Homo sapiens: one gene and its partners. The protein of the gene in region 1 interacts with the protein of each later gene in a pairwise test. Each region holds a gene or a part of one and is shown in the gene's direction. Other genes may lie near its edges.

What was found.
Region 2: the proteins of CTNNA3 (region 1) and FAM110A interact in binary tests that used the Homo sapiens proteins (3 or more experiments, as listed by UniProt).
Region 3: the proteins of CTNNA3 (region 1) and ZNF474 interact in binary tests that used the Homo sapiens proteins (3 or more experiments, as listed by UniProt).

Annotation. Positions count from the first base shown.
Region 1 is NC_000010.11:65,911,895-65,915,302, reverse strand, and holds the end of CTNNA3 (catenin alpha-3), read left to right. Parts: 3' UTR 1-2,780; downstream 2,781-3,408. UniProt on the Homo sapiens protein: May be involved in formation of stretch-resistant cell-cell adhesion complexes.
Region 2 is NC_000020.11:837,857-841,691, forward strand, and holds part of FAM110A (protein FAM110A), read left to right. Parts: exon of another isoform or gene 1-2,159; intron 2,160-3,425; exon of another isoform or gene 3,426-3,835.
Region 3 is NC_000005.10:122,132,546-122,136,145, forward strand, and holds part of ZNF474 (zinc finger protein 474), read left to right. Parts: intron 1-3,600.

The DNA of each region.
Region 1 (3,408 bases):
GTGTCGAAGGCAAAAGGATGAACTACACATATTTTGAGCATGATTTAGTAATATTGTTTGCAAGTTGAGAAACAGAAATTCAGCCATTCTCCTGACTGATGGTAGGTGAAATTCTTCCCAATATTAGAGCCAATCTGGGTTACCATACGTTCATATATTTAACAGCTATTTGTTAAACAACTGTGATGTTCCAGGCACTGTTCTAGGTTCTTAGGATACACCATATAACAAAACAAATAGTGATCCTTGCCCTCATGTGCCAGCTCTGTGTTAAATGCTAACTATTATCTTATTCAATCCTCCAAATAACCCTATAGGATATATATCATTCCACAGACAAGGAAGCTGAGGGTTAAATGGGATAAGAATCTTGCTCAAAGTCTCACTGGCTTTAAAATATTAATATATATTTTACATCATTCAAGACAGATATATAATTAGCTGAATATTCTCACCTCTATTAACTGAATGTAGAGTGTCAGGTACATGGGAAGTAAGTTATTTACGTGATCTGAAATAAGAGGACAACCTTTGCCAAATTACTTTTATTACCATGGAGAAGAAAGCTTCAATGAAATGCCTGTTTCAGCCCATCTTCAGTATTGGTTGGTTAATACCATTTGTTAACACCAATCCTTTCCTCTTTTACTGCTAACATGTGACTGTGTTTAAAATTATAGATTGCAGCAGAGTGTTGGCCAAGGATTATTGTAGTAGGATAAAGTTTCCCTGTATTTGAAATTTACCCAAACTGTAGCAAATACATCTTTCCTTCTTTATGGAGGTCACACGTGTGCATAGTATGTGCCTGAATACAGGTAAACTTTGTGTTTTAAAATTACATGGCCTTTTTTAGAGTCGACTGAAGGCTAGACTCTTCTTGCCCATGTTGCTGGATAGGCTTTCAAATCTCAGGCCTTGGAGAGTTAAATGACTTTCTGATATTTCTTACGGTGGAGCCACATAAGAAATACACACATTCCTAGTTTGAGCAATGGATGTGTATATTGGGGATCTTCACTTTTATGTATCTGGTAGTCATGATGGTGCCTATTCCCAACTGTAGGAAAGGAAAGCCCTCAAGGAGAAAATTCTCTTTCAAAAAGGCTCAGATTTCTAACAATTATGTCTAAATGTTTCTTCAATTTAGAACATGTACAAAAGCTACTTAATATTAGCAGAGTAGTTCTTGTGTTTTCATTTCAAATGAAATATTCCCAGTTCCAAAGTTTATTTCCTTGGCATTTTCAAGAAGGATGGTTATTTTTAGTTCTGGTTATTTGGTGTTGGAGGTCTGTGACACTTCCTTATACATTTAAAGCCCCCTTTGAATAGTTGTATCAATAGTTCAAAAGCCTGTAGATATCTTGCTTTTCTATTCTGACAGCCCAGCTTCTGCAGACTCAGGCCAACCTTAGGTATGTCACATCAGTTCCCCATCTGTGTAAATTACCTGAACCTCTCTGTGGTATTCACTGAGAGTTGAGCTTCTACTAAGGGATTTCCTTGACCTGGGCTTTTAACACCAGATTTGTAGTGGAGTGTTTATTAGTAAAGCAAAGGAGTAAGTCAGAGATGCTAGCCCCTGCTCTCAGTTAAACAGAACTATCCTCCTTCCTGAATATTTAAACATAAAATTAATTTTAAACTACTATAAAAATCATGTTCCATTGCTTGCCAAATCTTATACCATTATAATGCTGTATTTTTACATGTTAGTATACATTGTGTCCATAGGGATATAAATATGAGAATTTCAGCAACTGTCTTGCAGGGTTAAGATGTGCTATTTGTTGATTTTGCAAATTTTTCTCATGTGGTACAGTCCCTCCAAAGAAAATTTCCTTAGACCTAAATGGTAGCATAATAATTTCTCCTCCATATCCGTGACTAACAAGTTCCTGAAAACAGAAGTAGACATATTTTATGCCCAATTTAGTACCTAATAATTGAGGCTTAAAACAAAATTTTCTTGGGCAAGTTGGGTGATTAAATATGAATTAAAACTTCTAGAGAAAGATTTCCAGATGCCCCTGTTTTCCATTTTGATTATGGTTTTAGTTTCATAGCAACTTGGGGGAAAAAAATCATTTACTTTATGTCGTATTACAACAACAACTTTGACAGCTTAAATGTAGTGACCTCTCTGAAGGTAATATGCACATTATAATTTAGGATGAAAGCAGATTTAAACTAAGACTTTCTGAGATGAAATAAAAGTAACCAATTCATAATAGTCATGTTTATTGCAGCAATATCTTGGGAACTTAAGTTTAGTGGCGTTTGAGGTGTTTCTGACTATCTTGCTTGTTCATTTCACCCTGCTCTGCAGAGACAGAATATGATTGAATGAACTGCCCATTATATTAATGACCAGTTCAAAGCAGTTTTGTGCTTTGGCTATAGATAAAATTTGGCAAAAATACTGTAGGCCTTTCTGGTCCATATTTATCCTTAAAGTATTTTTGCCAATCAATAAAAATGAAATATTTATCCAGAAATAGAAAAAGCTCTTTCCTATGACATTGACATAGAAGCCCAAATACTCCTTGTTTGAGACCCTGCATGTCTTTTGTGTTTAACTGAATCAATGATTTTTTTTAGTTGTGCTCTTAATTGCATTATTTCACATATGTAACACTGGGTTTGTTTTGGTTATATAGTATTATTTTACTTTATTCTAATTTCAACTCATGTCACTCTGTAGCTCATTAAGAATTTGTTCAACTGAAAATTAAAATGTGTGTTAAAGCAATAAAAATGAAAAGATTGGCTATGCATTTTATGTTGATATTTGGTGGCGGATTTCTTGGGTGGGATGAAAAAAATGGAGATTAATAAATTGCTGAGTAGTCCAACCATGTGTTTCTAAGTGTCACCTTCACTCTCATCCTCTTTCAGTTTTATATTTATAATTCAGGAAGGCACTTTTCCAAACTACTGCATGCACACAAGTAATCTGAAGCATATCTGATAGAATTAAATTCATAGTCTAAATGAGCATTTTTGGTCTAATACAGGCACTAGTCTTGGGCATTAGACATGCCTTTAATAGTTCTGTGTAGCTCAAGAGTTGTTCTTTAGCTTAGGACTTTATGAAAATGATCAATAACTTTTCTGAGAATGTCCGAACACATACTCCCTAGTGGTCATGGAATACCATTGGTTCTACCAATGCTCTTGTATCTAAAAATTGGTGGGTTTTTAACATCCATCTTGGCCTCCTCATTTTTAGGCTGATAATAATCCTTTCTCAGTATGAATCCCATGGGGTTAGCCTCTCGATCCTCTTCCAGGGGTCACACAGGCTGTTGCTATCTACTCTAGAACATCAATCACATCATTTTCTCCCTTCAGGGCCCTTACTACTTCAGAACACCTACAGCGAAGTCTCAGTCTGCAAGTTCC
Region 2 (3,835 bases), on another chromosome or scaffold:
GGAGCACGGTGAGGGTTTGGGGAGGAGGCTTGGTGCTTAGGGACCCTGTCCTTTTTTTTTTTTCTCTTCTCACAAGATATTTATTAATTACAAAGGGAAAATAATAACTGTACAGTGGAGAAATTTGGCAGATACTGCCTTAACCAAGGAATTGGCTGATCACTAAGATTAAGACAAACTGTTGTTATGAGTGGGTGTGGTAATGTACCTATAGTCCCAGCCACTCAGGAGGCTGAGGTGGCAGGATTGCTTCAGCCCATCTATTTGAGGCTGCAGTGAGCTATGGAGTGCACTCCAACCTGGGCAACACAGTGAGACCTCATTTCTAAAAAAAGAAAAAAGAAGCCTTCTGATACCATGTACTAAGAAGGACACAACATCACTTTTGTGTTATTCTTGACAGATATGTTTAACTTTCTCTCCTTTCTTTCTTCCTCTCTTTCTTTCTTCTCTCTTTCTTACTGATATAAGAAAAAGCTTTATACATTTAATATATACCTCTTGATGAGTGGCCTTGGCCTTTGAGGTGGGCTGGGTCCAGAACAGCCGGTTGTTCAACGGTATTTCCTCGTGTTTGGTCCCTGAAGGAAGAAAATTGGAAGGGTGTGATGGAGCTCATGGTCCAGTGGGAGAGACAGGAAACGAGTTATATTTCCTATCCTAGATAAGAGTATCTAAAATGACAGGATGTAATGAGTGCTCGGAAGGGAATAAAATGGGTGAAATTGCTGAGGGGGTCTCTTGGAGGAGATGACATTTGAAATGAGATCTGAAGGGGGTGAGGGAAGAGGTTCCAGACAGAGAACAGCTGGTGCAAAAGCCCTGAGGCAGGAAAGACCTTATGTTCAGGAACAGCAGGGAGGGCTTTGTGGCCAGAGCAGGAAAGAGGTTGGAGATAAGATGGGAGATTTGGACAAGGACTGAGTCCTGGAAGGCCTGAGGGCCAAGTGGGGAGCTTGGATTTTTTTTTTTTTTTTTTTTGAGACAGAGTCTTGCTCTGTTGTCCAGGCTGGAGTGCAGTGGCTCAATCTCAGCTCACTGCAGGGAGCTTGGATTTTATTGTAAGGGAGCCACAGGAGGGTTTAAACACAGCAGTAATGAGACTTTATTTCTGCTGGGAAAACATTGCCGTTATTGCCCCCATTTTACAGCAGAGGAAACCGAGACTCAGAACCATGACCAGGGAGTGCTTCCTAAGGTGGTTTCTCCCTCTGGGGTCCAGCCGACGAGGCAGTAGATTCCTTGGGACTTCCTTGGGGGGCACATCTGGTGAGTGGCCAAAGCCCAACACTGAAAACACCGTCTCTTCCACCTCCCCTCCCCAGATGTGAGCCTGGGTTCCAATCCTGGCTCTACCATTAATCAGCTGTGTAATTTTGGGCACGTGGCCTTACCTCTTGGAGCCTCAGTTTTCTCATCTGAAAATGGGCATAATAATAGTAGCCCTCACAGGGTAGGTGTGAGGATTAAATTAGTTAACATTTTGTAGAGCTTAGAACAGTGTCTGGTACAAAGAAAGTGCTCAGATGAGATTTGTTCTTTTCTTTTTTGGCTGTAAGTTTATTCAATGTGAAATAATCCTCTCCAATTTTATTGAGGTGGCTGACCACGTCCACGACCACATCTGCCTCTAAACTGGAATTCGGTTGCTGACCCAGCCCCAGCCTCGGCTTTCTTGTCAGCACCAGGGGGCACAGAACACCGTCTGTAGGTATCTCTGTCAGCTTCCCGTCTTGTGAGTCTTGCAGGTCGCTTACCCTCCAGACCTTTAGGCCGAGGCCTGCCAGTCTCTGGACGGCTGCGGTGTAGGGTGGCAGGAACAATCTCCGGGGGCAGATGTAGGGTGGCAGGAACAATCTCTGGGGGCAGATGAAGGTAATCACGGAGATACTGGCTACCCTCATTGGTAAGGTACCAGTAGAAATGTCTCCAGGCAAACTGTTCCTTCACGCAGCCCCGGGACTTGAGAGACTGCATGGCCTTCATGACGTGAAGGTTGGGCACATTCTTGTCTGCCAGCTCCGGGTGCTTAGGCATGTGGACATCCTTCTTGGCCACCATGACTCCCTCCTTAAAAAGGAGTTCATGAATGGCAATCCGGTTCTTCTTAGGCATCAGCATCTTGGCAGCTGTAGGGTCCGGGGCTGGGGCTGGAAAGGAAGGACTGTTCTTTTCTTTGCTATTACGAAAATCATTATTGTTGCTTTGCTGTTACTACTATTAGCGCCTGAAGGAGCCTTCCCTCCCCATCCCCCATTTCTGCCTCCGTGGAGGGCTAGGCAGGGCTCAGCAGGCCATTTGGAGGATGAAGGACTTGTTGCCCCGTCCCCTGTAAAGTCAGGGACTGGAGGAGGCTGCAGTGCTGAGGGGGAAGGAAAGCTGATGTGCATCACTGCCGGTCTCCTCATGCCCTGTACCCTAGTCCTGGCCCAGCTCCCACAGGCACAGACATGGAACAGGAGCCTCTTCAGCCTGAGTGTGGCAGAGGGCTGGGGCTGAGGCCTGGGGGACAGCTCCTTCTCTGGGCCTCAGGATTCCCATGAAAAAATGGCCTATCAAATGTTCCTACCTGCAGTGAGTTATAGGACTTGGGGTGGAAGAGGTGACAGTCACCTCCCTCTGGGAATTCCTTCCTGCAGGGCTGCAGTCTCATGGGATTAAATGAGGGGGCTCTGGGGATTTAAATGAGTATGGTGCCTGGCACCCCAAAATTCTAGTTATTGTTGTTACTATGACGGCTGTTGTTGCCGATGTTAACCGTTTTCACAAGGCAGCTGAGGCATGCTCAGGCTCAGCCTGTTCCAGAGGGATGGACTCTACACGTGACAGCATGGAGCACCAGGAGGGTCCCGCAGCCTGGTCAGGGACACACAGCTAGAAAGTGGTGGCGTTAAGCCTTGGTCTGGAGGGAAAGTGCGCAGGCTGGACTCCCCAGAGTGATTTTGGGCTAGTGACTCAGCCTCTCTCAGCCTCAGTTTACCATTAGTCAAATGGGGTAACAATAGAACTCACCAGATAGTGATTGTTGGGAAGATTAAAATGGGTTACCCGATACCAAGAAAAACACTTTCCCGTGCCTGGCACAGTGAACATCACCTGGCGGTCGTTCTGAGTGTCAGGGAGCGGGGCTCAGTTTGTCCATCTCTAAGGTGGGTGCGCTTGCCTGCCAGAGCCACGGGGACCCCGCGCGCCAGGTGTGCGGTGGGCGGGTCTCGGCTCCCGGAAGAACTTCCCTGGGTGGTCCTGGAGCGGGTCGGACCCAGTTCCTGAGCCAGGCCAGCTGCCGGCGGCCGGGGCTCGGGTTCTGGCCCCTGCCTGGCTTTCCTTACCCTTTTCGGGTAGTACCTGGACCAGCGGGTTCACTTGCCCGCGGCCGCCGGAAGTTGCGCAAACTCAGCTTGCCGGAGCCCCAGGTGGGCCGGGCCGGAGGAGCGCAGGCCAGCGGCGCGGGCGCAGCCGGGTACGTGCGGACCGCGGCGGGGGGCGCCCAGCCGGGGTAGGGGGCGGCCCGAGCACCCCTCCACCCCAGGACGGCGGGAACGGGGCAGGGATCTACCTTTCGGCTTCAAGAGGACCGCGGGGATGGTGCCGCTCTCTCCCTCATTTGAGAGCCAGGAGGGGCGGCGAGGGGCAAGGGTCACACAGCGCCCTGCTAGCCGACCCCCCATCCCCCGCCACCGGGAGTCCTCAAGCTTTTCCGGAATTGAGGGAGAGCAAAAGCCAGCCTGGGGATCTGAGTTCCCCCCAGCCCTGCCCCGCGGCCTCTGGAGGCTGACGCTGGGGAGCTAGTGGGGAGGGGGCCAGGTGGGGATGCGCGCCCCCGGGATGCAAGCCA
Region 3 (3,600 bases), on another chromosome or scaffold:
TTTTGTGTTTTGTCTAACAAATCTTTGCAAATATTAGGATCATAGATATTCTCTTCTTAAAGTTTTATCATTTTTGCTTTTATATTTAGTTCCATGATCCATCTTGAGTTAATTTTTGTGTGTAGTGAAAGTAGGGAGTTGATATTTTCTCCCTATGTGCATCCAGTTGTTCCACTCTCATTTGTTAAAAAGATTTTCCTCTCTCCATTGAATTGTCTTGGCATCTTCATCAAAAATGAATTGATCATGTATGTAAATTGACCATATGTTTCTGGACTGTCTATCCTGTTACATGGATCTGTTTGTCTATCCTTATTGGCATATTAATTTTAATAAGCCAACTTATATTATTTGAATACCTGAAGCAAGTATTCAGAATAAATATGGAAGCTGAATTCTTCCATGACTGCTTACTAGTGAACCATACGCAAGAATTAGAATCAGGTTGGGCAGTCCTCCTTGCATGTTGCCCAAATGTTTCCCCAGGCAGCAACCTTATTTTAAGTGATTCTGTAATAAGCAAAAGCCAAAAATATAGTTATAATCTTATTCAGGAATCATAATCCCAGTGAAAAAAATAAGTATTTTTCAAGCCCATTAATATAGAATGTGACTTGAACTTAATTTTTATTTGTTAATTTATTCAGTAATTTATTGGGCATCTACTATATTCCAGACACTGTTCTAGACAGGAAAAAGCAGGAGGAGAATATTTATTTGTTCATAATTTCTGCAAGAAAACATTATTTATAACATCAGCTCTGTTTCCTGTTTAACAGTATATTTCTCACAATTACAGAGAAAAATCTATACCTGGTCAAATATGCATCAGAATAAATGTCATCACATATTCTTACGAATTGACAGAAAATTATAAACATTCAAATGTTAACTAAGAAAAAATATTTTCCAGCATCTCCAAATCTTGCTATCACTTCCATAAAATACCTATTTCTTTTGAGCCTAAAATGTAAACTATTATTTCTATTAGTTGCATTTTCCAGATTATTTTATTCATTCATTCATTTCTTTGAGAAAGGGTCTTGCTCTGTCACCCAGACTGGAGTGCAGCAGCACAATCACAGCTCACTGCACCCTCGACCTCCTGGGCTCAAGCGATCCTCCTACCCCAGTCCCCCAAGTAGCTGGGACTACAGGTGTGCACCACCATGCCTGGCTAATATTTTTTACATTTTGTAGTGATGAGATCTTACTATGTTGCCCAAGGTGATCTTGAACTCCTGAGCTCAAGCAATCCTCCCACCCTGGTTCCCAAAATGCTGAGATTACAGGCGTGAGCCATAGCGCCCAGCTCCAGCTTATTTTAGAATTCAAATCTTATCTATTATTTCTAAGAGAATTTTTAGTTTTACCAACTGGACCTTCATATGACTGTTTCTTCTCTGGGTCTACATAATTTGAATAAATATGTAATCTTATTTTAACTCATTTTCCCAGACTATCTGGGTGAATGATACATTTTCAGGATTATATGCAATTCCAGAAGTAAGTTGTAAATGGTGAAGAATGTGAACAATTCCAGAACACCCTTCCTGAGGGATCAGTGATGATTTCTGCGGAGTCTTACAAACACGAAGAAACAATTTCTAAATATCATTGCACACAAATATGGCAATAGGAATACACTATGTTGGGAGCAGCAGAGAGGGAGAATATAAAGAAGGCAAGTTGTTAATCATTTAAAAAGAATGGCAAAGTGCAAATAGAAGGTCCCCCAAGGTGCAATGCAGCCAAGCATTTGTTTGAGAGGAGACTCTAACAGGAGCCTTATGGAGTTCTGTGCAGACAGCACTTAGTAGGATTCTGGTTGCATTGAGTGCTATAAGTTCACATTGATTAATAACTTGATGTCTTAATGTTAAAATGAAATCTAATTTAAATGGTCTAACAGAAGGGTTAGAAAATTTTCTTGTCTTTGCCCAAATGGTAAATAGTTAAGGGCTCGTAAGCCATACACTCTGCCATTGTAGGGCAAAAGCAGTCAACGACAAACATAAATGAATAAACATGGCTGTATTTCAATAAAATTTTATTTACAAAAGAGCTGAACGATGGCCAGATTTATCCTGTAGGCCATAGTGTGTCAGCCCTTCTAATGTTCAAGGAGTTCTGATGAGATACCTTCCAAAAATCATACATTGATACTGAAAGGCCTGTGGCCTTGAAAATGTTCTTCTTGAGTGCCTGGTACTTGGGGGTTCTCTTTAGAAGGGAGATGACTAGATAATTATATGCAGAAGAATGAAATGAAACTCTTATCTCTCTCCATAGAAAAAAATCAAATCAAAAAGGACTAAATCAAATCTAAAACATAAAACTATAAAACTTCTAGAAGAAAACACTGGGAAAACACTCTAGTACATTGGTCTGGTCAAAGACTTATTGAGTAAGATCTCAAAAGCACAGGCAACCAAAACAAAAATGGACAAATGGGATCACAGCCAGCTAAAAAGCTTCTACTGAGCAAAGAAAACAATCAACAAAGTGAAGAGACAACCCACAAATTGGAGAAAATATTTGCAAACTACCCATCTGACAAGGGATTAATTATCAGATAATATAAGGAGCCCAAACAACTCAATAGTGAAAAACCAAATTATACATTTTTAAAATGGGCAAAAAGCCAGGCTTGGTGCCATGCACCTATAATCCCAGCTACTCAGGAGGCTGAGGTGGGAGGATCACTTGAGGCCGTAAGTTAGAGACCAGCCTGGGCAACATATCAAGACTTCATCTCAAAAAATTTTTTTAATTAGAAAAAAATTAAAAATGGGCAAAAGGTCTATATACATATATCAAAAGAAGTCATGCAAACAGTCTAAAAATGTCCAACATCACTAATCATCAAAGAAATGCAAATCAAAACTAAAACAAGATATCATCTCATCTCAGGTAAAATGGATTTTATCAGAAAGACAGGCAATATTGATTGGTGGCGAGGATGTGGAGAAAGGGCAACCCTTGTACACTGTTGGTAGGAATGTAAATTAGTACAGCCACTATGAACAGTATGGAAGTTCCTCACAAAACTAAGAGTAGAACTACAATATGATCCAGCAAACTAACTGCTGGGTATATAGCCAAAAAAAGTTGAAATCAGTATGCCAAAGAGATATCTGCACTCCCATGTTTATTGCAGCAATATCCACAAGAGCCAAGGTATGGAGTCAAGATAAGTGTCCATCAGTGGATCAATGGATAAAGAAAATGTGGCACATATACTCAATGGAATATTATTCAGCCATAAAAAGAGTAAAATCCTGTCATTTACAACAACATGGATGGAACTAGAGGACATTATGTTAAGTGAAATAAGCTAAGCACAGAAGGACAGTAGAACATGTTCTTACTCAAATGTGGGAGCTAAAAAAAAAAATGTGATCTCATTGAGATAGAGAGTAAAATGATGGTTGCCAGAGCTGGGAAGGGTAATGGGAAATGAATAAATAGGGGTTGGTTAATGAGCCTAAAAATACAGTTAGAGGGAATAAGACGTAATGTTCAGGAGCATAACAGGGCAACTATAGTTAAAAATAAGCTACTGTAAGTATTTCAAAATAATGAAAAGACTAGAATTGT